Linked DNA regions of Homo sapiens. The protein of the gene in region 4 purifies or fractionates together with the protein of the main gene of each other region. This does not show direct contact. Each region holds a gene or a part of one and is shown on either strand. Other genes may lie near its edges.

The links.
Region 1: the proteins of CDC14A (region 4) and DDX27 purify together in Homo sapiens (affinity purification with mass spectrometry, with the first as the bait; one large-scale study listed by BioGRID). This does not show direct contact.
Region 2: the proteins of CDC14A (region 4) and ASCC3 purify together in Homo sapiens (affinity purification with mass spectrometry, with the first as the bait; one large-scale study listed by BioGRID). This does not show direct contact.
Region 3: the proteins of CDC14A (region 4) and SRRM1 purify together in Homo sapiens (affinity purification with mass spectrometry, with the first as the bait; one large-scale study listed by BioGRID). This does not show direct contact.
Region 5: the proteins of CDC14A (region 4) and SMC4 purify together in Homo sapiens (affinity purification with mass spectrometry, with the first as the bait; one large-scale study listed by BioGRID). This does not show direct contact.
Region 6: the proteins of CDC14A (region 4) and MARK2 purify together in Homo sapiens (affinity purification with mass spectrometry, with the first as the bait; one large-scale study listed by BioGRID). This does not show direct contact.
Region 7: the proteins of CDC14A (region 4) and ABCF2 purify together in Homo sapiens (affinity purification with mass spectrometry, with the first as the bait; one large-scale study listed by BioGRID). This does not show direct contact.

What each region holds. Positions count from the first base shown.
Region 1 is NC_000020.11:49,236,416-49,239,915, reverse strand, and holds part of DDX27 (probable ATP-dependent RNA helicase DDX27), read right to left. Parts: coding exon 3,406-3,500; intron 968-3,405; coding exon 861-967; intron 681-860; coding exon 578-680; intron 1-577. UniProt on the Homo sapiens protein: Probable ATP-dependent RNA helicase. Component of the nucleolar ribosomal RNA (rRNA) processing machinery that regulates 3' end formation of ribosomal 47S rRNA.
Region 2 is NC_000006.12:100,647,330-100,650,829, forward strand, and holds part of ASCC3 (activating signal cointegrator 1 complex subunit 3), read right to left. Parts: intron 3,386-3,500; coding exon 3,209-3,385; intron 123-3,208; coding exon 1-122. UniProt on the Homo sapiens protein: ATPase involved both in DNA repair and rescue of stalled ribosomes. 3'-5' DNA helicase involved in repair of alkylated DNA: promotes DNA unwinding to generate single-stranded substrate needed for ALKBH3, enabling ALKBH3 to process alkylated N3-methylcytosine (3mC) within double-stranded regions.
Region 3 is NC_000001.11:24,660,302-24,663,801, reverse strand, and holds part of SRRM1 (serine/arginine repetitive matrix protein 1), read right to left. Parts: intron 3,084-3,500; coding exon 3,003-3,083; intron 2,493-3,002; coding exon 2,406-2,492; intron 1,143-2,405; coding exon 998-1,142; intron 620-997; coding exon of another isoform or gene 578-619; intron 1-577. UniProt on the Homo sapiens protein: Part of pre- and post-splicing multiprotein mRNP complexes. As a component of the minor spliceosome, involved in the splicing of U12-type introns in pre-mRNAs. Involved in numerous pre-mRNA processing events.
Region 4 is NC_000001.11:100,516,506-100,520,777, reverse strand, and holds the end of CDC14A (dual specificity protein phosphatase CDC14A), read right to left. Parts: intron 2,528-4,272; coding exon 2,498-2,527; 3' UTR 501-2,497; downstream 1-500. UniProt on the Homo sapiens protein: Dual-specificity phosphatase. Required for centrosome separation and productive cytokinesis during cell division. Dephosphorylates SIRT2 around early anaphase.
Region 5 is NC_000003.12:160,413,150-160,416,649, reverse strand, and holds part of SMC4 (structural maintenance of chromosomes protein 4), read right to left. Parts: intron 3,178-3,500; coding exon 3,037-3,177; intron 2,284-3,036; coding exon 2,133-2,283; intron 400-2,132; coding exon 235-399; intron 1-234. UniProt on the Homo sapiens protein: Central component of the condensin complex, a complex required for conversion of interphase chromatin into mitotic-like condense chromosomes.
Region 6 is NC_000011.10:63,908,315-63,911,520, reverse strand, and holds the end of MARK2 (serine/threonine-protein kinase MARK2), read right to left. Parts: intron 2,645-3,206; coding exon 2,284-2,644; 3' UTR 501-2,283; downstream 1-500. UniProt on the Homo sapiens protein: Serine/threonine-protein kinase. Involved in cell polarity and microtubule dynamics regulation. Phosphorylates CRTC2/TORC2, DCX, HDAC7, KIF13B, MAP2, MAP4 and RAB11FIP2. Phosphorylates the microtubule-associated protein MAPT/TAU.
Region 7 is NC_000007.14:151,217,206-151,220,705, forward strand, and holds part of ABCF2 (ATP-binding cassette sub-family F member 2), read right to left. Parts: intron 1,955-3,500; coding exon 1,859-1,954; intron 1,669-1,858; coding exon 1,549-1,668; intron 1,446-1,548; coding exon 1,356-1,445; intron 987-1,355; coding exon 876-986; intron 1-875. Other genes in the region: ABCF2-H2BK1 (ABCF2-H2B protein), read right to left, coding at 876-986, 1,356-1,445, 1,549-1,668, 1,859-1,954.

The DNA.
Region 1 (3,500 bases), on a different chromosome or scaffold from region 4:
ATGGCATGTATCAGAACTTCATGGCTGAATAATATTCCATTGTGTGTATATAAACACACACCCCAAATTTTGTTTATCCATTCACTTGTTGATGAACATAGTTTGTTTCCACCTTTTTGCTATTATGAACAGTAATTCAAAGAGCACTGGCATCTAAGTATCTGTTTGAGTCCCTGTTTACATCCTTTACAACAGTGGTCCCCAACCCCAGGCTGCATACCGGTTCCAGTCCATGGCGTATTAGGAACCAGGCTGCACAGCAGGACGTGAGCATTGGGCAACCAAGCATTGCCACCTGTGCTTGGCCTCCTGTCAGATCAGCAGCAGCATTAGATTCTCATAAGAGCACTAACCCTATTGTGAAGTGCGCATGCGAGGGATCTAGGGTGTGCACTCCTTATGAGAATCTAATGCAACCCCCACACCCCAAATGTGGAAACATTGTCTTCCACGATACTGGTCCTTGGTGCCGAAAGGTTGGGGACCGCTGCTTTACAGTATAGAACTAGGAAATGGAACTGCTGAGTCCTGTGGGGTAATTCTGTATTTAGATTTCTGCGGAACCTCCCTGACTTACTTTTCTCCTTCTTCCTCTCTTCTTTGGTCTGGAACCAGCTCCTCTCGGGCTCTTGGACCACTGCCTCCTTCCCCTTCTCCAGGAGCCGCTTTGCTGTATTGATCTGTAGAGATAACAAAAGGATGCCTGCCGTGAAACCCGTATCTACTAACACAGGAAGCCACGGGCTGCAAATGCCTGGGGCTCTGATGGGAGAAACATTTCAGAAGGGCAGCACCAGCAGGGATGCAGCAGCTTGCTTACTGAGCAGCCTTGTGAACAAGATCCCGCCTCGCAGCCTCACCTGGGCTTCTGACTGCTGCATCTCTTTTTCCTCCGCCTCTAGCTGCAGAACTGCATACACATCTTTCTCCATTTTCTCAATCTTGTCCCGGAATTTGAGGATGACATCTCAATGGGAGAAAATAAAAAGGATTTACAAATAAGGGTAGGCCAGGCATGGTGGCTCACACCTGTAACCCGGCACTCTGGGAGATTGAGGTGGGAGGATTGCTTGAGCCCAGGAATTTGAGGCCAGCCTGGGCAACGTGGCCAGACTCTGTCTCTACAAAAAAAAAAAAAAAAAAAAAAAAAGCCAGGCACAGTGGCTCATGCCTGTAATCCCACGCTTTGGGAGGCCAAGGCAGGTGGATCACCTGAGGTCAGGAGTTTGAGACCAGCTTGGCCAATGCTGTGAAACCCCGTCTCTATTAAAAATACAAAAATCAGCTGGGTGTGGGGGCACACGCCTGTAATCCCAGCTACTACTCAGAAGGCTGAGGCAGGAGAACTGCTTGAACCCACGAGGCGGAGGCTGCAGTAAGCCAAGATGACACCACTACACTCCAGCCTGGGCAAAAGAGCGAGACTCCATCTAAAAAAAAAAAAAAAATTAGCCATCATGGTGGCACACACCTGTAGTCCCACCTACTCAGGAGGCTGAGGAGAAGAACTGCTTGAACCCAGGAGTTCGAGGCAACAGTAAGCTATGATCGCACCCCTGTACCCCAGCCTGGGCAACAAAGCAAGACCTTATCTTAAACAAAATAAGGCAGTGGCTCAAGCCTGTAATCCCAGCACTTTGGGAGGCCAAGGCGGGTGGATCACGAGGTCAAGAGATCGAGACCATCCTGGACAACATGGTGAAACCCCACCTGTACTAAAAATATAAAAATTAGCTGGGCGTGGTGGCATGCACCTGTAGTCCCAGCTACTTGGGAGGCTGAGGCAGGAGGATCACTTGAACCCGGGACGCAGAGGTTGCAATGGGCCGAGATCGCACCACTGCACTCCAGCCTGGCAACAGAGCAAGACTCCATCTCAAAAATAAATTAAATAAAATAAAATAAGGGTGACTACTAATACTGTGTAACTGATGAAAATAATTTAGCTGTGCATTTACTGACATAGGAAATGGTGTCTGTAATGTGTGCCTTCTCTGCTTCATATCCCCCAGACTCAGAGTGGCCCCTGCCTACCGCTCTGATCTTCTGTGTGTCCCTGCTCACCACGCCTGAGCCTCCTGACCTTTCTCTTGTTCTCACACACTAAGCTCGTTCCTACCTCACAGCCTCCACCCTTGTTCTCTCAGCTCAGCACTTTGCCCTCAGACCTCTCATGGCTGCCTCATTCCGATCACCCAGGACTCAGCTCCAATGCCAGCTGTGCAGAGGCCTTTCCTTAACAGCTTAATGAGGCAGTCTCCTCCTGCTGTTCTCAATCACATCTACTGTTAGCTTATTTATTGTCTCTTTCTCCCAGAACCACAGCTCTGCTTTGTTCCCTGCTGTATCCCCAGCACCTAGAACAGAATCAATAGCACTAGGCCCACAGCAGGACTCAATAACTAGTCGCTGATTAAATGAAGACAATGAAAATGAAAAAAATAAAAGGGACATTTAAGAAAGGAAAAATGGTTTGAAAAGACATACACCTAAATGCTACCAGTGGTGAGCTCTTTGACACAGAATTACATTTTTTTTTATTTACTAATTTCCAACAATAAATACGTACTTTTCATTTCATTTTTTAGAGACAGGGTCTTGCACTTTTGCCCAGGCTGCAGTGCAGTGGCACAATCATAGCTCACTGCAGCCTCAACCTCCTGGATTTAAGAGATCTCCTGCCTCAGCCTTCTGAATAGCTGGGACTACAGGCACACACCACCATGCCCAGCTAATTTTTTTTTTTTAGAGACAGGCAGCTCACTATATTGCTCAGGTTGGTCTTGAACTCCTGGCCTCTAGCAATCCTCCTGCCTTGGCCTCCCAAAGTGCTGGGTTATAGGCAAGAGCTACCATGCTCAGGCTAAATATGTATTATTTTTATAACTTTAAAAATTTTTAAGGCTGGGCATGGTGGCTCATTACTGTTAATCCCGGCACTTTGGGAGGCAGAAGGTGGGTGGATTGCTTGAGCCTAGGAATTCAAGAACAAAACAAAACAAAAAAAGACTTTAAAGAGGATGTGCTTTATAAGACCCCCACAGATCAGAGGAACAAAATCAATGAAAGGACCCAAAAAGAATGAGTACTGATCTCTCTCTTCCCCACCACCAACAGTAAGGGAAAGAGGAGTTTAGTGAGAATTTTGCCCCAAGCAACCTTCTCTTCTCAATTTCCACCTAAATGGGGCACTGTGTTTACAATTCTGTCATAATTCCCTTCTACACACAGGAGGCAAGCTCAGAGAGGTGAGGTGAAACCTGCACATGGTCACTCGGCAAGGAAGCAGCAGGGCTGGAATTCAAATCTGGCTCTGAACTGCAAAGTACCTGCTCTCAGCCATTACACTCTGTCCTTGCCCCGCCCACCGAGCCATTCTGCACTGCCACAGGGGTGCCTGCTCACCTTGGGGAAGTATCCTGGCCTTCACAGGGGCCTTGGCAGCTTTTACAATCTCCTTCAGCATCTTCCGCTCATCTTCTCCCACCAGAGAGACTGAG
Region 2 (3,500 bases), on a different chromosome or scaffold from region 4:
CTAGCCCAACCCCAAAGCCTCTTGTCAATGACTTTACTAAGATTCAGGAGCCTGTAGGTCATGGTAGGCCAACGTTTCCTCAGAGCAATTTCAAAAAGAGCACGGACAATTCTAGCTGCATTCTAAAAAATTATAGGAGGAGATTGGTGGTTATACCCAATGTGCTTTTAAATTTGTCAATAAATCTATTATTCAAACTCAGTCTGAAAAGAAGTGCAAGTCAAGCTGCATCCTTGAATTGTGGGGCAATATCTTTTCTCATATAATCCTAATTATCTTATTATTTCTACATAAGAATAATCCTATCCTTTATATGTGGATGCTACTTGCTTACTCTCAGAGGGGAAGCCTTATTTCCAAGTTCTTAGAAAGCTCTACCTTCTAAACAGGAATGAAGTAGGAAGAGACAAAAGGCATGCAAAATATTTAGGAGGCTGTTAAGGCATCTGACTATAAGAGACAAGGACGCCTCTTGGTGAATAGTGGAATGATTAAATTTACAAGGCTATTTAGAGGATTAAGGAAGACTGGGATCCTGATAGGGAAAAAAAATAATGAGAGAAGGGTGACAAATGAAATACTGATTAGTGTAGCTACTCATATGAAAGGGCCATACAAATGGCTTCCTATAAACCAAACAATGTGTTAACTTGCTTTACATATATTGCCTCATTTAACTTTTACAAAAATTGCATTTAATTGATATTAATATTATGATTTTATAGATGAATATACTAGGGCTTAAAGAGGTAAAAAATTTGACCAAGGTCACACTGCTAGTTGGTGTCAGAGCATCTACTCAAAGCCAGGACTAAAGGACTCCAAATATAACTGAGATTCTAGACTCAGTGGTCTGAGGATAACTTTATTAATAGACATATAGAAAGTTATAATGAATGTAGTCTTTTTCTTCACATTTCTACAGCTAGCTCCCATTTATTTTGCCTCCACTCCTCTATCATTAACTTTGCAGATTGTTTTATTAAAGATTGTTTTTTAAATGAACTTATACCTTCCAAAATCCAGTAACATCTGTATTTGAAAATAAAGAATGTTCAGTCTGGTTAAAATCCAAACAAGAGATACAAAACTGAAAAGATTTCAAATGGCAGACAAACAATCCAGCCTAAAATTATGAAGTCAAAAATGACAGATGAGTTAAAGGCTTTCATTTCACATTTTATATAAGATATGCGCTGTCTTTTGATAAATTTGACTATTTTGTTTCAGTATTAGAAATTAAAGTACAAAATGGTAGATAGAAGTATGAGGACAGTTCTGATATCCATTAAAAATGACTGAATGGGTCTTTATAAGGCCCAGAGAATAATAAATAAAATTTTGATTACTGTATCTACCAAATAGGTTTTCCTACCTCATTCCCACTTGTTCTTACAAAAAACTATCAGGCTAATTTTCCTGCCTTTGAAAGTATGTCATTTTAATATTTCAGGATCTACAGTTATCCCCTCAATGCTAAAAGAAGTAGGAGAAATTCCATATGACAAGATACAAACAGGACATGTTAATCTAGAATGATATAAATTGGTTCAAAATAATAAGTCTATAACATGTACAGTCTAGAAAAGTTAAGCATAGGCCTTTAAATAAAATCCTAGAATATTTGAGCTATAGGTTTACCTTAGGGGCTGAGGAGAGAAAGTTTAAAAAATATAGAAGAAAATATCATTTTACAGAGTTGAGAGAGTAGTTGTTCAATTACTGATAGCTTAAACTTAAAATGTAATAAAGTATAATTTATCTGATGCATTCAGGGATGCTAAATCCATAATGGCTGTTTAAGAAAAAACAGGGATGCTTTGAGATATCCTTAATCAGAAGTTGACTTCCTGGATACCAATCATGAAGAGAATTAAAGTTTTACATTGTAAGCAATTCTTATGTCAGTCTCTGATAATATCTTCATAATCTTGAAGCAAGCAGAAATGTTGCCAGATTATTCATCCAGAACCCAGTAAAACTTTACCTTTTATTTAAATGATTAACTATTTCAATATAAAATCATTAGAAAATATAAAATGACAATATTACATTACTTTACAGAAAAACAGATAAAACAAAGGAGATTAGAAAATTATTCCTATAGAAGCTATAGGGTTTAAAGAATATATAAATATTTTCACTACATCTATATTAACTTTATATAATTTATGAATTATATAACCTGGTATCTTGGTTACATTGATTAAATTACTACATGCATTCAAAATGTTTACCAATATGTCTTGGTTTGTGTTTGTAAATATTCCATGTTTAAAGGACTCCTGAGTACTCATGGCTATTAATAATGATATATTTAACACAAACATTCTTTTTCTATATTTAGTCTTTCTTTGAACAAAATTACAAATATAACAGCAGAATCATTTCCATATTTAAAATAAAATTAAGCTTTAATTTCTTCTTAATTTATAAAAGGAAGTACTCAATAAAATAAAATTAAAAAGCCTTGACAGGTAAATAATTTTTTTAAAAAAGTATGTCTAGAAGGGAAATCTTTCATTTGAAGGATAAATAGGGTAAAATATAACCTACTTTACTTCACATAAGGGCTTGAATATAAAAACACAAATATTTGAACAGTTTATACCATGGTATTTTTTAAAAGTTATAAATTAAATGAGCTGTAGTTTAGGGAATAATTTTCTTTCTGTCCTCAATGTTTAAGTTTCAACAGTAGAGAGGAGAGATTACTTTTGTAAAAACCAGAGACATCACACTGAACGTATGGTAGGAAATATGTTTACTACGCCTTGTTTAATGATTAAAAATATTATTATTTCTAATATTTGGTAAAAATCTAAAAAAGTTCCACAATCTTTTCTTTATGCTTGCAATATTCTTTAACTTTTCTCTTTATAAGTACTTTATATTCTTTTACTTTATAAGTAAAAGAAATGAAATTCATCATTTAAAGTAGAAAAAAATCAGGTATCATTTTAAAACTTTGTAAGAAACATCAACATCACCAAAAAAAGCCCTATCAGTCACCAAATCTCATCCCCAGTCCTGTTTTATGAGCATAGATTACATAAAATATTTACAAATTAGCAGAAACAGTTCTAAGTAAAATGGTGGTTTGGTAGCATGTCACAAAGCAATGCATTCATAGCACAGCATGAATTAACACCTTGGTCCTCTAAATATATTCAAGGAAGAGAAAACTGGAAGGGAATAAGATACTTACCTGTGCAACATATGCAGAATCTGATATAAGGGAGAAACTGTCCATTTCTCCTCGGCTGATATAAGTTTGAAGTAAGATGTTTATTTTCCCATAACTATTCTCTACACCTCCAGGAGTGGAGAGTTCACAAAAATTGCTTAATAAGGTATCTAACTCCTCTATTTCCTCTTCTCTGACCTAGAAGAATCAATGTATTTATTGGAATTTTGGGGCTGATTTATTTAAATTTTTCACATTGAAATTAAATACATTGCATGTTTTTAAAGAGTTTCCATTTACTATAATGCAGCAT
Region 3 (3,500 bases), about 76 Mb from region 4:
GGGTTCAAGCGATTCTCCTGCCTCAGCCTTCCGAGTAGCTGGGATTACAGGCACGCGCCAACACTCCCAGCTAATTTTTGTATTTTTAGTAGAAATGGGGTTTCACCATGTTGGCCAGGATGGTCTTGATCTCCTGACCTCGTGATCCTCTCACTTTTAATATTTCTAAAGTTTCTCCCTAGTTTTTCCTTGCCCTCCCTAATGTCACCACAAATACAAAGTCCCTCCCCCCAAATCTAAGGAGCAATAATCCTATCTCTGGAAAAGTATCCAGATACTGTTAAAAATCTGCGTGCTGCTTGATGTAAGTTGATGCAAATTATCACAAAAGAGCACAACCAGATATTAAAAATCTAAGTTCAAATAAGGGTCTAAACCAAATAGCTCATGTATAATTCTCCCTATCATTAATCTAATGTGTTAAAAAAAATACTCAAACCAAAACAACTTAGGATCTGCACATTCACAGCCACAGCCACCATATATTTAAGAATGAGATGAGGTCACCTAAATAGGAAATTAAGTCACTACAATTTTTGACATGTAACCCTAATTTACAAAGTAGTGTCTAACCAACCTTTTAGTCACTGGCGATTGCCATCGCTTTCCCATCTGCATCCTGAGAGCAGTGGAGAAAAACAAATGTCAAGAATTCCATTCACTAAATTATTTACTTGGGTGGATTAAGTACCATTAATGGAGACATTTTTAAATATTCAAAGATGTTCAGGAGTTACTGCTATAATAGTTTGGTTTATTTTTCTAATCATGCACACATATATGACATGGTGGTTTAAAATTTACCAATTCTAAATTAATTATTAATAACCACCAATAAAGCAAAAACAAAACAAAACAGAAACCCTAAAAAGCAAACAAAAATCCAACCACATCCAAATACTTGAAGGAGTTAACCAAATTCTCAAATAATCCCAAGTTATCAAATTTCATCACAATTACAGAACATCAGTGAACATCACTGAAGCAAAGATGTTACCGAGGGGAAGTCTCTTTTTGGCGCTTTCGTGGTGATGGAGAAGCACTCCGGGAAGGGGAATGTCTCCGCCGCCTGCCAACCTCACCATTCTTCACATGGGATCTCTTGGGTCGTTCATCTTCTGAGGAGGAGGAGGAGCCAGAGTCTATAATTACAAAATTAAAAAAATATTACATTAGGTTTGTGCTTGAATCTGTCCAAGTTTTCTGAAATCTAGGTGGATGGAGTGTTCACTAGGGTAAGCAAGCATGTATACAGGCCATCAGTTCTGAACAGAATCATTATCAATATATGATCAATGATTTCAAAGCCAAGCATATTATTTAAATAAGACATAGAAATAATTTCCACAGTGTAATCCAATCAAGATGGCATACTCTAAGAAGTTTGAGCTGGGCACGGTGGCTCACCCCTTTAACCCCAGCATTTGGGAGGCCAAGGCAGAAAGACCGCTTGTGCCTCCTGAGTAGCTGGGATTACAGGTCTGCACCATCATGCCTAACTAATCTTTGTATTTTTAGTTGAGACAAGGTTTTGCCATGTTGGCCAGGCTGGTCTCGAACTCCTGACCTCAAGTGATCCATCTACCTCAGCCTCCCAAAGTGTTGGGGTTACAGGTTAAGCCACCATACCCAGCCTGGTATATTCTTACAATAAAAAATGCAAATAGTAAAATAATAGGGTAGATTATTATTATTTTTTTTGTGGAAACAAAGCCTTGCTCTGTTGCCCAGGCTCCCAGGCTGGAGTGCAGTGGCGCGATCTCAGCTCACTCACTGCAACCTCTGCCTCCTGGGTTCAAGGGATTCTCCTGCCTGGGCCTCCCAAGTAACTGGGATTACAGGTGTGCGCCACTATGCCCGGTTAATTTTTGTATTTTTCGTAGAGATGGGGTTTCGCCCTATTGGCCAGGATGGTCTTGAACTCCTGATCTCGGCCTGCTCACCTCGGCCTCCCAAAGTGCTGGGACTACAGGTGTGAGCCACTGCGCCCAGTCTAGATTTTTAATAGGGAAAGATGTTCTAAATATACTGTTAAGTTAAAAAGTGAGGCAACATATCTACAGTTGAGCTTCTGTGGGGTTTTTTCTTTTCCTTTTTCTATATGCACAGAAAATTTCTGAATAAAAGCTTTAGGAGGTTGGAAAAAGAATGATACGTTTCCAATTTTATACTTCTGTTTTCTGTTTCACTATTGTATCCTAGGGACCTATTACTTTTATAACAATGTAACAGAAAATTAAATTTTGCAAAAGGACTTAAAACCAAAAAAAGAAACAATCCTGCCTCCTCAGACAGATTTCTATGTAGGCAAGTAAGTACTCATGCTGCACACACAGATGTTTATATACCAAGTATTTTTTAATAGGAAATACAGGTAGAAAAAAAACTTTCATCACCATCCATACCAGATGAAGACTGCTGGTTTTGTCGTCTGTATTGGCGTCTCTGCTGCACAGAATCTGCTGCAGCCATTTTGCCACCTTTATCTTCTTCTGAAAGATGGATGCATTTAGAAAGTGTTTCTTTAGTTAAGCATATAGAAAATTTGCAATTTGAATAGGAAAATAGTCTCTCAAACCTTCATTTGGTTGGATCAAAAATACAACTACTATATATTTTTTTTAAAAAGAGTTTAAAATGCCAATTCACAGGCTGATTTAGACTATCTTCACCAAATATAATAAAATTTATTTAGGCATTTACTACAGGTCAGGCTGGTGCCAAGCATTTTACAAGCAGATACAGTTAACTGTCAAAAACCTCTACTGTCCCTATTTCGGAGATGAAAGAAGAAAGGCTCAGATAAGTTAATTAAAACAGAAACAGTTAAATTCTGGAATGGGGGATTCCACCCAAGTCTGTCTGCCTTCAGAGTCTTAGCTCTTACCCTATACTTAATCTTCAAGCAGAAGGGGATGACCAAATGTGCAAAAAATCAAAATCAGCTTTAAGAAAAACAAAAACAAACAAACCAAAATCACAAAAAAAAACAACAAACTTACCCGATTCAGATAACTCTACTTTTCTAGGCTTCGGTGCTGGTGAAGGGGATTCTCTTTTCTCAGTACCTTTATGTTTTGTCACTAAAAAAGAATAAGAGTGGAAAAAAGCTTACGTACAAAAAAAGGTCTATACAAGATGCTTTTCTTTTAATTTTTAAAAATTTATTATTATTTTTAAATAAAGATGGGGTCTCACTATATTAGTCAGGCTAGTCTTGAACTCCTGACCTCAAGCAATCCTCCTGCCTGAGCCTCCCAAAGTGTTGGGATTACAGGCACAAGCCACTGTGCCCAGCCAAGATGCCTTCCTGCTATTACAAAAATGGGTGTGACTACTCTCAAAAAGAATTTATGAAGACTTAAAAAATTCCTGTAAGACCTTGTTGTCATATCTGAACATTATCTGAAGTGAGACAAGAATTTTTAAATGTTTAATGAAAAGCCTCAAAAAGTTCTACAATGATTTTCAAATCTTGAGATTCTCCCAAGAAAACCAAC
Region 4 (4,272 bases):
TACTATATAAAATATCTCCAATAAATAGTGTAGCTTCTTCCTCCCAAACTGACTTTTCAGGGCATAGATCCAACAGGTGTGAGGTTTCTTCTAACTGATTTCTATAATTTCTCATTTAGGAAAAATGGCATTCTTTTTCAAAAGGAACTGGTGATCAATCACACAATAGTCATCAGTAGTCATAAATGACTAAGCAGGACCCAAAACACTGATCAGGATCAGTATTTTATTGACAGTAAAAAAAATAAAGGGAAAGCAAGCAAGAACCTAACATTATATGATTTTTGTGAAATTCAAAGTATAAGGTTTCTGTGAGCTCACTGTCATGTATTTCAGGCAATGGCCACAACCTAGAAAGTCAATAAAAGCTAAACTAAAATCCAGAATAGAGATCTTGAAACACTCAAGGCACTGACCACACTGAACCAAAAATAAAATTATAAAGAGACTTCAGTACATTGATAACTCAAAAATTCAAATTATAAACACCAAAAAATAAGTAAATTGAATAAAACTTTTATTATTTATTAGCAGTGTATTCTTCTACACTTTAAAATAGAGCAAAATATCTTTTGGAAGATAAACTATTCATAACAAAATACATGTCAAACAATTTTTATTATCAGAGTAAAATTACTTTGCTATATACTTTCTATATTATATACATCCACTTCTTGGTGTGTCTATGTAGGCACATGTGTAAAGTAATTTTTAGACATATACATGTACATACATATGACACATATACACACATAATTATGGGAAATTTACAGTAGTCAACTTTACAATCATTTTAATAGCTTCACACAAATTAGTGTTCACAGAACTAAAACTGTCAACATGATTCCCTTTCCCCTACTTCTCAAATGTCATCTGAATTACTTTTTATGATAACTTGAAAAAAATACTGTCATCTTCCTATACAATTAACCAATTTTTATAATAACTCATAATAAAATATTTTACTTTTTTAACTTTAGAAAAGATACATAATTCCACTTATTTTAGTTTTTGATTCCTAAATCATACAATTCGTTTTTTTCATCAGTTGAGTGTAATTTTTGGTACTGCAGTTACTGAAGGTTAATTTAACAAACCTGAGTCAAACATTCATTCAAATGCCTTTTTTAAAAACATAAAACATGAACAAGATGTTTTGATGAAGCATATATAATAGACTCAAGGTACCCTCCCCTAATAAATACATTATAAATAACTCAATGGTTGGGAGTAAAGCACTTCATATGAATCCATTTAACTAGCACTTTCAGTGTCGAAGCAGTCCATTCTTAAGCAGCCTGGAAGGATATCAGGATGTAACGCTCCTCGATTCCTCATAGAAATGAAACCTACAGGCTTCTGAAGACCTAAATATCAGATCATACTTACATGAAAGGGCTGTGAGTACCTATAAGGGTCCTTTCATTTTCATAGTAGGTTCCAGATATGCTAGCGTGTGCAGCAGGGGGTTGTACCCTGTTTTAAAAATATCTCCTTTAATACAGAGAACTACTTAGCAGCATCTTTTTCAGTTTTTTCTCTCCATTGATTTAAAACTGATGTCAAACCATGTGTGATTACAGGCAACAACAACCTCATACCCAAAGCAGGATATCCTAATTGGGTTAAGAACTCTTTTGAAAGGAGGAAGGAAAAAAAAACATTTGGAATATTGAGTCATTTCATAGAGAAAAACCATGAAACCATGCTCTCAGAAGAAATATTCAGTGAATTCTGATCTTTCACTGCATGCTGTATTTTAAAGCCCCCCAGGATGCAAAACTAACTCAAATTGGCTCAGCAACAAAAACAATAGGAAAGGGAATTGTCCTAAATAAGCCATCCCATGCCATTATACTCTTGGTAGAGATAAACTTGGATAAACTCAGTGTAACTAAACTGACTTCCCAAAAGAATGAACTGACCTGCCATATTTATAGTGCGAGCATAAAAATCACTTTCTAAAAACTTTCTCCCTTACTTCTTCTTAATAAGAAGGAATTATTTATTCATTAGAGACAAAACCATACTAAAACTAAACAGATTTAAAATACAAATTTTTGGTAGCAAACAGCAGGAAAATCTAAATCAAAATATAGTGTAGTTTTTACATAATTTTATATATTTATAAATTTATCAAAATAGTCTTTTAAAGTTCACAATACATATATAATGTAACACTGTACATGTAAATATAATAATAAATGTATTACCAAAATACATTAAAAATAACCCTTCAAAATACCAAATTCAACATTAAAACTGTCTTTAAAAGTATGGAAATCTCCATAAACATAGTTTCAGTGCATTTATAGTAGTCATTAACCAGTTTTCTGTTTTCAAGTCTCTTGAAGGTGTTATCTTAGTGCTCTTTTTAATTTAAGGTAAGAAGGCAGAGATATTCTTCCAGCAAGAAGTTGCTTTCCCTCTCCACTGCTCGTCCAGATGAAGAAATTGTGTCTAAGAGAAGAACAGCTTTCACTGGAGTGGCAAGGCCTTAGTAATGAACATATTCAGACTGAAGGGACTGTGCAGGGAGAGACATAAACTGAGGTTAAATTCCATCACATGTAAAACTTCTAGCAAGTCATGCAGCTTCTCCCTTCCACACAAGACAGCTTAGAGATCAATGAAATAAACTAAGCCAAAACAGAAACAAAAAGACAGGAGACACAAAGCATTAGCTAGGTAAGAATGAGATATTCAATTACGCAAAGTGATTGTAAGAAAACTTTATATTTTAAAAGGTTTACTAATTTATTTATAGTGATTAAAAAATTAAGTTTTAATTTAAAAATCGGTAGGTAGCCTAAACTCATCTCTAAGCATTTCTACAATTAATGAGTTTTACTTAACAATATTAAAAGATACTTTTAACTAATTAAAGATTACTAGAATATACTTTGAGATGATATATCCTTAAATTTAATTCAGTACATATCAATGGCATGCTTCTAATGCAGTAGAATTAGCAGCCATTTAAATAAATTCCTTAAGCATGCTTGAATTTATAAATATCTTACACATCCTTTCCCTTAAGGGGAAATGAAGTACTACCAGCTTGAAATCTGATCTTAAGACCCAAAAACATTTATGCAGAAGAGTCTTGCTGTCGGAATTTAATAAACAATAGGCAATTTTCAAGTAAACCATACAAATTCTTCCACATCACATTAGATACTAACATATAAAAGGATTGTGATTGGGATATGTAATCAGAATGCCTGGGACAACAGACATAAACCAGGAAAAGATAGAGAGTTACAGAAAGTTTGCCAAACAGTTATTTTTTTTAGCAGGAAACAGTGATTAGAAAAAGGAACATAAATCAATCTAAACATTAACAAATTTTTTGCTCAATTCTTCCAATTAAATACCTGAGGATAACAAAGTTTACTTGATTTTCTAGTAAATGCCCTTTTCTCCCACCCAATAATTATTTCTCAAATTAGTCTGTAACATTTCATTAACAGGTCTAGTCAATTATAAGACAGGTCCATTTTGGTGATGATATAGGTTATCAGTAAAAAAGAATCTGTCCATTTTCCAAAGAACTTACAAAAGGATTCAAGCTATCTTTTCTCAGCTTCAAAACTGCAGTGAATTTTACACCCCATGAACAGCCAAATGGCTGTTCCTGAGTAAGTCCCTGTTAACACAGTATGTCAAAGAGTTATGGTCCCTGACCGCAAAGGGCGAAAGCCACAATGTCATAACAGATGTGAAATGAAAAGACAGCGGTGTCGACATTAAATAGTAATATACATAGTGTAAAGTTAACATCGTGCACCAGGAAAGGCTTAGGTGAGAGGTAGTAAGGGAAATGGGTGGTTCTCAAGGCTGCCAGTTTCAAGAGCTGTAGGAAGAATGGAAAAGGTTTGGCTATTGACTTTCTTGTATGTGGTTCATGCTAATACTTCAAAATAGGTGTGAGATGATCAAGAATCAGAGCACTATACTATAAATATACCTGAACCCACAGTGCGAATAAAAGAGGTAAGACCCTAAGAAAGTCCAGTGAAGTTGGTCAAAAGCCTTGAAGCCCATATACATTCCACTTGAGGGACGCCAGCTACCACACTCGCAATTAGAGCATAAACATTTTTCTACCTGCTTTTTCTCGGTTTCTTCTAAGTCTGGCAAGCAGTCAGAGGGCAGAGCCAGTTAAGTCCCCCAGCTATAAGAATGCCACAAAGGTATGTTGTGCGTGTATGTGTGTGTGTGTAGCTCAGCTAGTGCTTTCTTGAGAATATTTAACTTTTACTTTTGTTC
Region 5 (3,500 bases), on a different chromosome or scaffold from region 4:
TGACATCACACCTTCTGCTACTACTACAAACTCTCATTTAGTAAACTTTTTAAAAAACATGTCAGCAGGAATTAAAAGAATAGTCATCTAAGTCTAGGTTGACTAGTTTTAGGAATGTTGGACATTAAAAGTCCAAACTTACCAGTTCAGGTTTCAGTATTTTTGAAAAAATAATCTTTAAGTTAAAAAAAAAAAAGCCACCAAAATAAACACTGATAAAAAAAAAAAACTTACTTCTTTTTCTTTCTGAAGCCCTTGTGTTTCCTGTTTAAGGCTATCCATAACTTCCTTTAATTTTTTTTCTTCTTTCTCTTTTTCCTTCTCGAGGGCATTGTTTCTGGTTGTTGTTTCATTAATGATATTGTTACTCTTGGCAGGTATACTTTTAAATTCTTCAACCTGAGATTATAAAACAAGTTATAGGAGCATACATCTTTATGTTACCCAATACTATCAATATTTGACATATTTAAAGGCATTTCTCAGGGTCCTCTAGTTCTTCTTTTCTTTATAATCAGAGTTAAATTAGCTAGCTTTAACAAGTATTTTCCCGACTATTCACTGTAATTTCTATATTCTCTCAATCTAATAGTAAAACTACTTCTACAAACACCTGACCTCTTATGAAGGAAAACTGTCTCTGGCAGGGCCTCAGGTCTGTCATCCTTCTCTCCTGATTTCAGGTTGTAATTATTCTTCTTTAGCTATAAATATGCTCTGACTACACGGAATTTTCTAAACTATCCTTCCTGGTATATCATAACTTACCACAAATTATCTTTACCATCTCCCCAACCCTAAAATCTTTCACAACTTTACTCTTCCAGAGTCATCATGTAGGGCTAATATTTTACTCCATTAACATCTTCTGATAATAATCACTTATCCATGCAGTCTATGCCTAAAGGCTAATCACTCTGTAACAGTTACACTTAGCTAAGTCTGTCAAGTCTTTGGGGTTACCCCCAAAGCCTTGTTATTTTGTTTACTCTGATTATCTAGTACCTGTGAAGTTCAACATTTCCCAAAATGCCACTTCCTTAAACACTGACTCAACGTATTTATCAGCTGTGCTAAGCAGAAAGTATTTTGTGAACAAATACATTTAGAAAATGCTTATAGCGTAAAGTAGAGCCTAATCTATAATTATTGTGTAACCATATGGAACAAAGCTTTTTTTTTGCGGGGCTGGGGTTAAGGTATCATATCTGTTTAAATATGACAGAGCTATGAACATGAACACAGCTTAAGAGATTCCAAATTATGAGCTTTCCTATCTCTCTTTAAGACACAGAGTCTCACTTTGTCACCCAGGCTGGATGCAGTGGCTTGATCACTATTCACTGGAATCTTGAACTCAAGGCATCCTGCCGCCTCACTCTCCTGACTAGCTAGGACTTTTAGGCAAGTTCCACTGAGCCTGGCTAATTTTGGATTTTCTGTAGAGATGGGATCTTACTATGTTGCCCAGGCTGGTCTTAAACTCCTGGCATCAAGCAATTCTCCAACTTTGGCCGCCCAAAGCACTGGGAATACAGGTGTAAGCCATTGTGCCTGGCCAACATTGGTAATTCTTGGGAAATCCTGCTCTGATCCTGTTAGCTTAGTTTTTGTAGAAGACAGGCAATATTTTTAAGTCTGTAATACCTAACTTAAATATCTTTAAAAACTACTACTTTAGGAAAAAGAAAATTAAAATTAACACCAAAATGGAACTCCTGATTTGGTAAATGTTTTCCCAATAACATATTATTGTAATATAAACTTTAAAACTCAAAGTCAAGCTAGGAGCAATGGCTCACACCTGTAGTCCACGTTACTTTGGGAGGCTGAGGTAGGTTTCTTAAGCCCAGGAGTTCAAGACTATAATCATACCACTGCACGCTAGCCTGGACAACAGACTGAGACCCCATCTCTGCAAAATTCCAAAACCAAACAAAAAACCTCCTGCAAAATAAAGTCAGTAGAAGCAAGGTTTCCCTTGAGGGGGTAAAATCATGTTCAGAGACAAACCTTAAAACAACATTTAGAATACTAATTCATTCTCTTAGGCAATAAGGGGCAAACACATCCATGAAAACTAGGTATGATATTCAGACGTGAAATTTTAAGAATTTTTTTCTAACACCTACCTTTTCTTTATCTTTTTGAAGTTGTTTCTCCAGTTTTTTGGCTTTACTCGTGGCATGTTTTAACTTTTCTCTAACTTGAACATCTTCCAAATCTAGCTGTGTAAATTTTTCTTTATTCTCCTCAATAAATTTTGTAATTTTATTCAGTTTCCTAGCAAAGCAAGTATATTGTAAGTCATTATTTTGAATGTGCACATATTTTAAAACCACATTTCCTACCTGGAACACTTCCTCTATAAATATGTCCAGGCTCTTAATAAGGCAGGATCCTAAAACTCTCCTTATTCCAAGATGATCCCTCTCCCCATAGTTGAAGAAGCACCTGTATTTTTGATTATGACAGCTATTTTGCCTTTCTAAGTTGGAGGGAAAATAACACATTTTCCAGTGACTACAATGTCTAGGTATATAAAAATTTTACCATAGGAGTAAAATTTTGGTTTTACCTTTTACGAATATACTTACAAGTTACTATACAATAAACTTACTATACAAATTTTTTTATTTAAAAATAATTAGAGATACTAGTGTCATTGAAAAATGGCATCAAGTAGGGACATGATAAAACCCTTAAAAATCTATCTAGAAAAACCCAAATCCTATCCCTCTATCAGATTTGTGGACTACTAAAAGATTAAACTGTGAAGCCAAATGCTTATTGTTTGTTACTGTGCTACGCCACTAGGGGGTAGCATCCCCACGGTTCTAAGACTTCAGAGTAGGGAATTTCATCTGTAACAAGGAACTGGATGCAAGGCAAGTTTTTTTTTTTCACTAAGGGGGCCACCACTTGATATGCTGGCAAATGTCTTACACTCACAATGTGCTAGAAGTAACTTTATATATAAATACACATGTAATACAATTATCTAAATACTTTTAGTACTTCCCAAAATATTATTACTTTTCTGTATCTTTTACATCTTTATTCTTAGCTTTCATTTCATTTGATAGTATATTGCTCTTCTCATTAATTTCTTTGGTATCTTCATGAATTTTTTCCTTTTGAGTTTCCATTTCAGCAATTCGTTTCTGCAACTCATAACTATAGGGAGGAAAAAAAAAAAAAGAAATTGAAGCTCCTAAAATGCCATTTCCAAAACTGTATAACAATTTTAGTAAAACTAACTGTTTCTAAAATATTATTAACTAGTCAATATATGACTGCCTAGGCTATGAGGGGAAAATCCCCCTGGGTCAAGGCTAGAATTTAGGAACAAAAATCGATTTCATTGTACCAATGTGGTGGCCGACGCCTGTAATCCCAGCACTTTAGGAGGCTGAGGCAGGCAGACTGCCTGAACTCAGAAGTTTGAGACCAGCTTGGGCAACATGGCGAAACCCCATCTCTACCAAAAAAAGAAAAAA
Region 6 (3,206 bases), on a different chromosome or scaffold from region 4:
AGGGCAGTTGGGTGTGCTGGCTGTTCTCATTCCTCTTTCCCTTCTTTTAGCAATAAGTCTGGGGTGAGGTGGGGAGGGAGGCTGCAGGGGGGGAGGTGGGCAGAGGGGCCTTACAGCAGCAGAGGCTGGAAGAGAAGCTCTGTCTTCAGGGGCCAGCTGGGAAATGCTAAGGAGCTGAGGGTGCCCACCAAGCCCACCTTCCAGAAACTTGGAGAAATGGGGGTTGGGAACTTATGCAGACATGGATTTATTTTTCAACATTTTTTAAAAATTAAAAAAAATAAAATCTAAGCTTACTGAGTTTTCTTTCCCTTTTGGTGCAAGGGCCCTGGGCTTTGCTTCCTGTCTGTGCCCTGTGGGTAAGTGGGGAGCTGGGCCCACCCAGCACTGGCCCCAGACAGGAATCAAGTCTCTCCTGCAAGGCAGGTGGGCTAGGCCACATCTTGCCCACAGGAGACTGGGTCCCTGCCTGGCTGGGAGAAGAAACAGGAGGAGGCAGCTCAGATTCCAAACATTCTCTTTATTACGTGTTTGATCCAGAGGAGAAACTAAGTGCAGGGTTGGGGAGGAGGGGGCTAGACGGGGAGGGGCCACCTTGCCTGGGTGCCCCGGGCCCCTACCCCCTTTGGGAGCCAAGCCATGCCCTCCCAGCCCCCTCAGAGCACCCGGGCTGTTCCATAGGGCAGGAGGGGGGAAGGGAGGGAGGGGGAGCCCTTGGTCTGAGCCGCAGTAGGAGTGTGGGGCAGGAGGGCTGAGGTTGGCAAGGCCCCTTCCTAGGACGCAAGGGCTCGGCTTAATCGCTGAGCCTGGCCTGGGAGCGGGGGTGATGAAGAGGGGTGGAGTCATCATAAATCAAAAAAAAAAAAAATAAAATAAAATAATAAAAAATAAAACCCATCACAAAAAAATGTACAACTCAGGTGAGGGTAGGGGCAGCCTCTGTGTAGGACTCCCACCCCCAATTTCTCAAGAACAGAAACAGCAGAGAAATAAATTAAGGGATGCAGTGGCCACCACCAGCCAAGCGCCCCAAACCGCCCACGCCCACACTGGCCACTGAGGGTAGCAAGCTGGGAGTCGCTTAGCCTATCTGTCCCCCACCCTGTGGAGGGCAGACGCTCCCGGCCCTGCTGCCTAACTCAGCCTTCTGCCAGGTGGCCCTCGGCAGTGTCTCCTGAGAGGAGGGGGCGACAGTGTCAGGAAGAAAAGGCAAGGCTGAGAGATGAGAGTGGTGAGGGAAGTCACTGCTATGGAGAGAGCTGGTGCCCAGATTAATGCCAATGAAGGGGAAGCCATGGGGAGAGGAAGGGCGAGGGGGCTGTGCTTTCAGACAAAGGCTCCCCCATCACAGAGTGCCCAGTGGCCCTGCTCTGGAGACCAACAGCCCAAGCGGCCCCCTGGGGACCGAGAAGCCAGTCTGCCCTCCAGTCCCCTCCCCTCTCCCAGCCCTGGGGTCAGCCCCTCCTTCTACCCGGGAGGGGTGGGAGAAGATGGCACAGACTTTGAGGGAACACACGTCCCCACAGCAGCTTGTGGAAGGAAATGCCCAGCTCTGGGGAGGAGGGGCAGAGGGTACAGTGTGGAGGGAGGCGGAGCCTTGTGCCGGCCCTCCAGCCTCAGCAGCCCCGGAGCAGCCCCCAGCCCCACCCACTGCAGGGCTGCGCAGCACCCCCGCCCCCTGCCCCACCGCCCAGGCCTCCAGCCCAGGGGCCTGAGGTCAGGGGAAGGCCACCTCTGGTGGTTTGCTTGGAGGGGAAGGAGGGAGGAGAGGGGAGAAGCCCACAGTGGGCCTGGCGGAGGGCCTGACGGGAGCTCCACCACTCTTGCCTGAGAGTGTTCCAGCCCTGAGCCACCCTCCCGGGAAACCCCACAGATCCAGTCTCGACTGTCCCAATGGGGCAGGGAGGAAAGGTGGCCGCTGGGATTTTTTTTTTCTTTTTTCTTTTTGGTAATAAAAAATTTCTTGGTTTAGGCGAAATACTCTGTGCAACCGCAGTACCGAGGGGGAGCCCTGCCCCCCCATCCACCCTCCCCTTCCTTTGCCTCCAGTAGGGGAGAGGAGAAGGGGGAATCTCTGGGCAGGGGTGAATGTGGGGTGCTGGAGAACAATCTCCCACCCCCCACAAACATGTAAGAGAAAACTGAGAAGGGCCAGGGAGGGGAGAAGTGCCAGCAGGGGAGACACACCAATCCATCGCTGCAGTCTCGCCCAGGTGGGGCGGCGCAGCGGCCGGCAGCCCGTCCAGCTGGCCCGCCCCCGCCGCCCCCGCTCCTGGCAGCCTGTTAAAGCTTCAGCTCGTTGGCTATTTTGGAGGCAATGTTTTTGAAGGCCATGGAGGTGCCCGATATCCGCTTAAATCGAACCCCGTTGAGAGAGAGCCGCGGCAGTTTGCACACCTCCATCTCCCACTGCACGAAGTCCTCGTGGCCCGGCGTGCCGTGCATGCACAGCAGCATGTACTTCTCATGCAGCTCGCTCTGGCAGCTGTTCGCGTCCAGCACCTTGCGGATCTCCCGCATCATCTCGTTGGGCTCCATGGAGCTCGTGGTCTTCATACTCCACGTGAAGCGGAGGGAGCGGGGCTTGGCCTCCCGAAATTCTTCCTTTTCTTTGTCGTTGCCGCCACTGCCCACCACGTGAGGTCTGTGGAGAGGGCAGAGGCGGGCGTCACGGGGGGGCTGAGGCACCCCACCCCAGGAGAGCCACCCTGGCAGACAGCCCCTGAGCCCAGAGAGGAGAGCGGGAGGGAGCAGGAGCAGCCAGGCGTGGCCCCTGGCCTGCGGGGGCGGAGGGTGGCAGTCCTCCAACCCCCATCTCTCAGGACAGCGAAGGGGAGGAGAAGCCAGCCTTGGGGTAGGCGGGGTGGGGTCAGGGAAGACACCAGTGCCCTCAACAGCACGAGCACAGACTCTCTCTCCAGAAAGAAGCCTCCGAGCACAGGGAGGTGGGATAGTCCAGGGGTAGGAATCTGTAGCCCCAACCACCCGACCCAGAACTCCGACTTCCAGAATATACCAGACCTGAGGAGAAGGGCCCGTAACTCCTGCAATTGGGTTTGGGAAGGGGAAACTCTCTGAGGAAAGGGAGGCCCCAGAGGGTAGGGACAGGGCAGAACCACGGGAGGAAGAGCCAAGTGGCAGAAGGAAGAGAGGAGCAGGAGGCTGTGGCAAGCCCGGTGGCCCGGGCAGGGCCAGTGCTGGCTCCA
Region 7 (3,500 bases), on a different chromosome or scaffold from region 4:
CAGCCCTGAAGAGGACACCATTCCATTATAGGATGCACTCACACACCCGCACTCATTCAGACTGGAACCACTGAGACGTTCCAAGTAACCTGACAGGTGCAGCTTTGGAATTGGGAAGAAACTGAAGTACCAGAGAAAACCCATGTAGACGTTAAAGGGAAAGTGCAAACTCCACAAAGACAGTGGCCCCAGCTGGGAATCATTTCTATTTTTCATCAATATTAATGAAATGACATTACTTGAGAACCTGCAGCATCCCTAAATGCACAGATGTTCCTATATTCTAAATGCTCTGATTGAAAATAGAAACATGGGCCAGACGCGGTGGCTCACGCCTGTAATCCCAGCACTTTGGGAGGCCGAGGTGGGCAGATCATGAGGTCAGGAGTTCAAGACCAGCCTAATGAACATGGTGAAACCCCATCTCTACTAAAATACAAAAAAATTAGCTGTGGCGTGTGCCTGTAATCCCAGCTACTTGGGAGGCTGAGGCAGGAGAATTGCTTGAACTCGGGGGATGAAGGTTGCGGTGAGCTGAGATCGCACATTGCACTCCAGCCTGGGCAACAGAGCGAGACTCCACCTCAAAAAAAAAAAAAGAAAATAGAAACGTGCTTAAACACATACATGTATTCACACACACACTCTAAGACTCCTCCCTACCTATCCCTGTCCCAGGAAAACAGCCCCCAGCCTCAGCACTGTCCAACCAGACATTCCCCCTCTCCTGGCTGCTGCTCCACCCCTCCAGATGGCTCACTCACCACCAGGGTACTCAGGCCCTCCCAAAGTAGTAGCCCCTGCATCACTCCCCTCTTCCTTAACCATCGCAAGGCCTAATCTTAGAGGGATCCACGCCCACCTTGGCACCATACCTCTCCAGTTAGCAGCTTCAGAAGAGTTGACTTCCCTGCTCCATTGGGCCCTACCAGAGCCACTCGTGTGTCAAGGTCAATTCCAAATTCTAGATTATTGTAGATGCAAGGCTGAGGTGGGGATGAGAGAGATGTGGACACAAGGCTAGAATACAGATCTGCTATGACCAGCAGACCAAGCCCGCTGAATTCCCAGTCACCAAGAGAGGAGGAAGGGAGAGTAGCGGGAGGAAGCACTCATAGCAGACCCCGCCTCGCCCACTGCCTCCGCCCACCAACCCAGCTGAGTAGTCTTCTTTCCATATACACGAAGAAAGGCCCGCGAGCAGCCTTGGATGAGGCACCCCAGCTGCCACACCTGAAAATCCCCCAGAGCACGTGGGCTAGCAGGTGTGGTCAGCACAGAACAGGAGCAACTCCCATGAGCTGCCACTCACCCTAAGATACACCCCAGCCACCCATGCCCTGCCCTGAACTTACCCCATCTTTTGTATACTTGAAGCTCACATTTTGCACCATAATGACAGGTGGAGGGATCTTGCCACATGGTGGGAAATAAAATGACAGTGTCTAGGAAGAAAAGAGGGCATTTATCAAGTTGGCTCCTTTCTTATCCACCTCACCTTAGGCCACCCAACCCCACCCAATCACACCCCACCCAATCACACCCCACCTTATCGCTCACGACCCTCTCTGTCAGTCCTGATGCCATCATTTTCTGTAGCGTCTTCTCCTTGCTCTGGGCCTGCCGGGCCAGCTTGGCACTGCCATGACCAAACCTCGCAATGTAGTTCTAAAAAAGACCAAAGAGAGCTTGGAGTATGTGCAGGCGCTCAACAATTCATCTTCAATCCAGGGTAAAAATGTTGATCGTAACTTCTTCCCGACATCCTCCATCACTACCGCTTCTCGAAATGCCCTCATCCGAGCCCCCTGCTTCTTTCAGACAGGAGGCCATGAGCCTGACTCTGCAGTCTCCCTACCTTCATGTGTGCAATCTGATCTTGCTCCCAGTGAAACCTCTTCATCTGGTTCTCCTCCAGCTCTAGCCGCGTCTTCACGTACTGATCATAATTACCCTGCATGGAAATGTGCCAGGTAAGGCAGGCAGCTTTAACCTGGGTTTCAATCCTGGATTCTCACTCAGAGTTTAGGGGGATGAGGGATGGCACTAACTTGGCCCTGGCTCTAAGGCTGTGCAGTAAGAAGAGAGGACGTGCATTACAGAAGCATATCCTAACATCAAATCGGAGTCTTTTCAATTCTATGCCCCTCGCTCAGCCCAGCCAGGGCCAGGCTCCAGCGCAAATCCTTAGGTTAGCTAGAAAGACACCTGTGGCACTGGGAATAGTCCTGAAAATCACGGTCATACGGACGTCACGAGGCTCAGAGCCTTCCAATACCACCTCCTATTCCTTCCCCGTTCCCTAGAGGCTGAAGCCCCACAAAAGACTGCAAGAGCTGTCTCCAGAGGGGAAAACAGACCATTCAGATTTAGAAGCTGACAAACCCTGCATAAGTGGACTACCATGGTTTCTATCTGCAAACAAAAACTGGACTCAAGCTAAATATCCACCAGAAAGGGCCTAACAAGTTACAGGATAAACACATAACGAAATACTATGCAGTGACTGAAAAGATTGTGATTGATTTATATATACTCACATGGAAAGCAGTCCAAAATATACTAAATTTAAAAAAGCAACCTACAGAATGATTATTAAAATTGTAACTGTGGCCAGGTGCAGTGGCTCACACCTGTAATTCCAGCACTTTGGGAGGCTGAGGTGGGTGGATCACTTGAGGCCAGGAGTTTGACAGCAGCCTAGCCAACATGGCGAAACCCCGTCTCTACTAAAAATATAAAAATTAGCTGGGTATGGTGGCATGTGCCTGTGGTCTCAGCTACTTGGGAGGGTGAGGTGGGAGGATCGCTTGAACCTGGGAGGCAGAAGTTGCAGTGAGCCAATATCACGCCACTGGACTCCAGCCTGGGTGACAGAGACAGACCCCATCTCGAGAAAAAAGAGGCCGGGTGCGGTGGCTCACGCCTGTAATCCCAGCACTTTGGGAGGCCGAGGCAGGCGGATCATGAGGTCAAGAGAGGGAGACCATCCTGGCCAATATGGTGAACCCCATCTCTACTAAAAATACAAAAATTAGCTGGGTGTGGTGGCATGCGCCTGTAGTCCCAGCTACTCAGGAAGCCGAGGCAGGAGAGTCCCTTGAACCTGGGAGGTGGAGGTTGCAGTGAGCCCAGATCGCGCCACTGCACTCCAGCCTGGCGACGGAGCAAGACTCCAGCTCAAAAAAAAAAAAAAAAAAAAGCTGCAATTGTATAAAAAGAAAAAGATTACGTATACATGACATTTTCTACAAATGTGTGCAAGTATACATGAAGTTTCTGGAAGGCTATATTATAAACTAATACTCCTATGACTATGAATGAAGAGGACATCAATCGTTAGTTTCTTACATGCTTTTTGAAATATAAAATGAAAAGGCAAGGCACAACAGTGGGCTATTGAGATCCTGACCCCCATTCTCCTGTGGTCATGGGAGGTGGGGTAAATGTGTAGACTCCAGTGAAGCAGAATTAAGAAGGCATTCAAGAAGGCAGAGGGA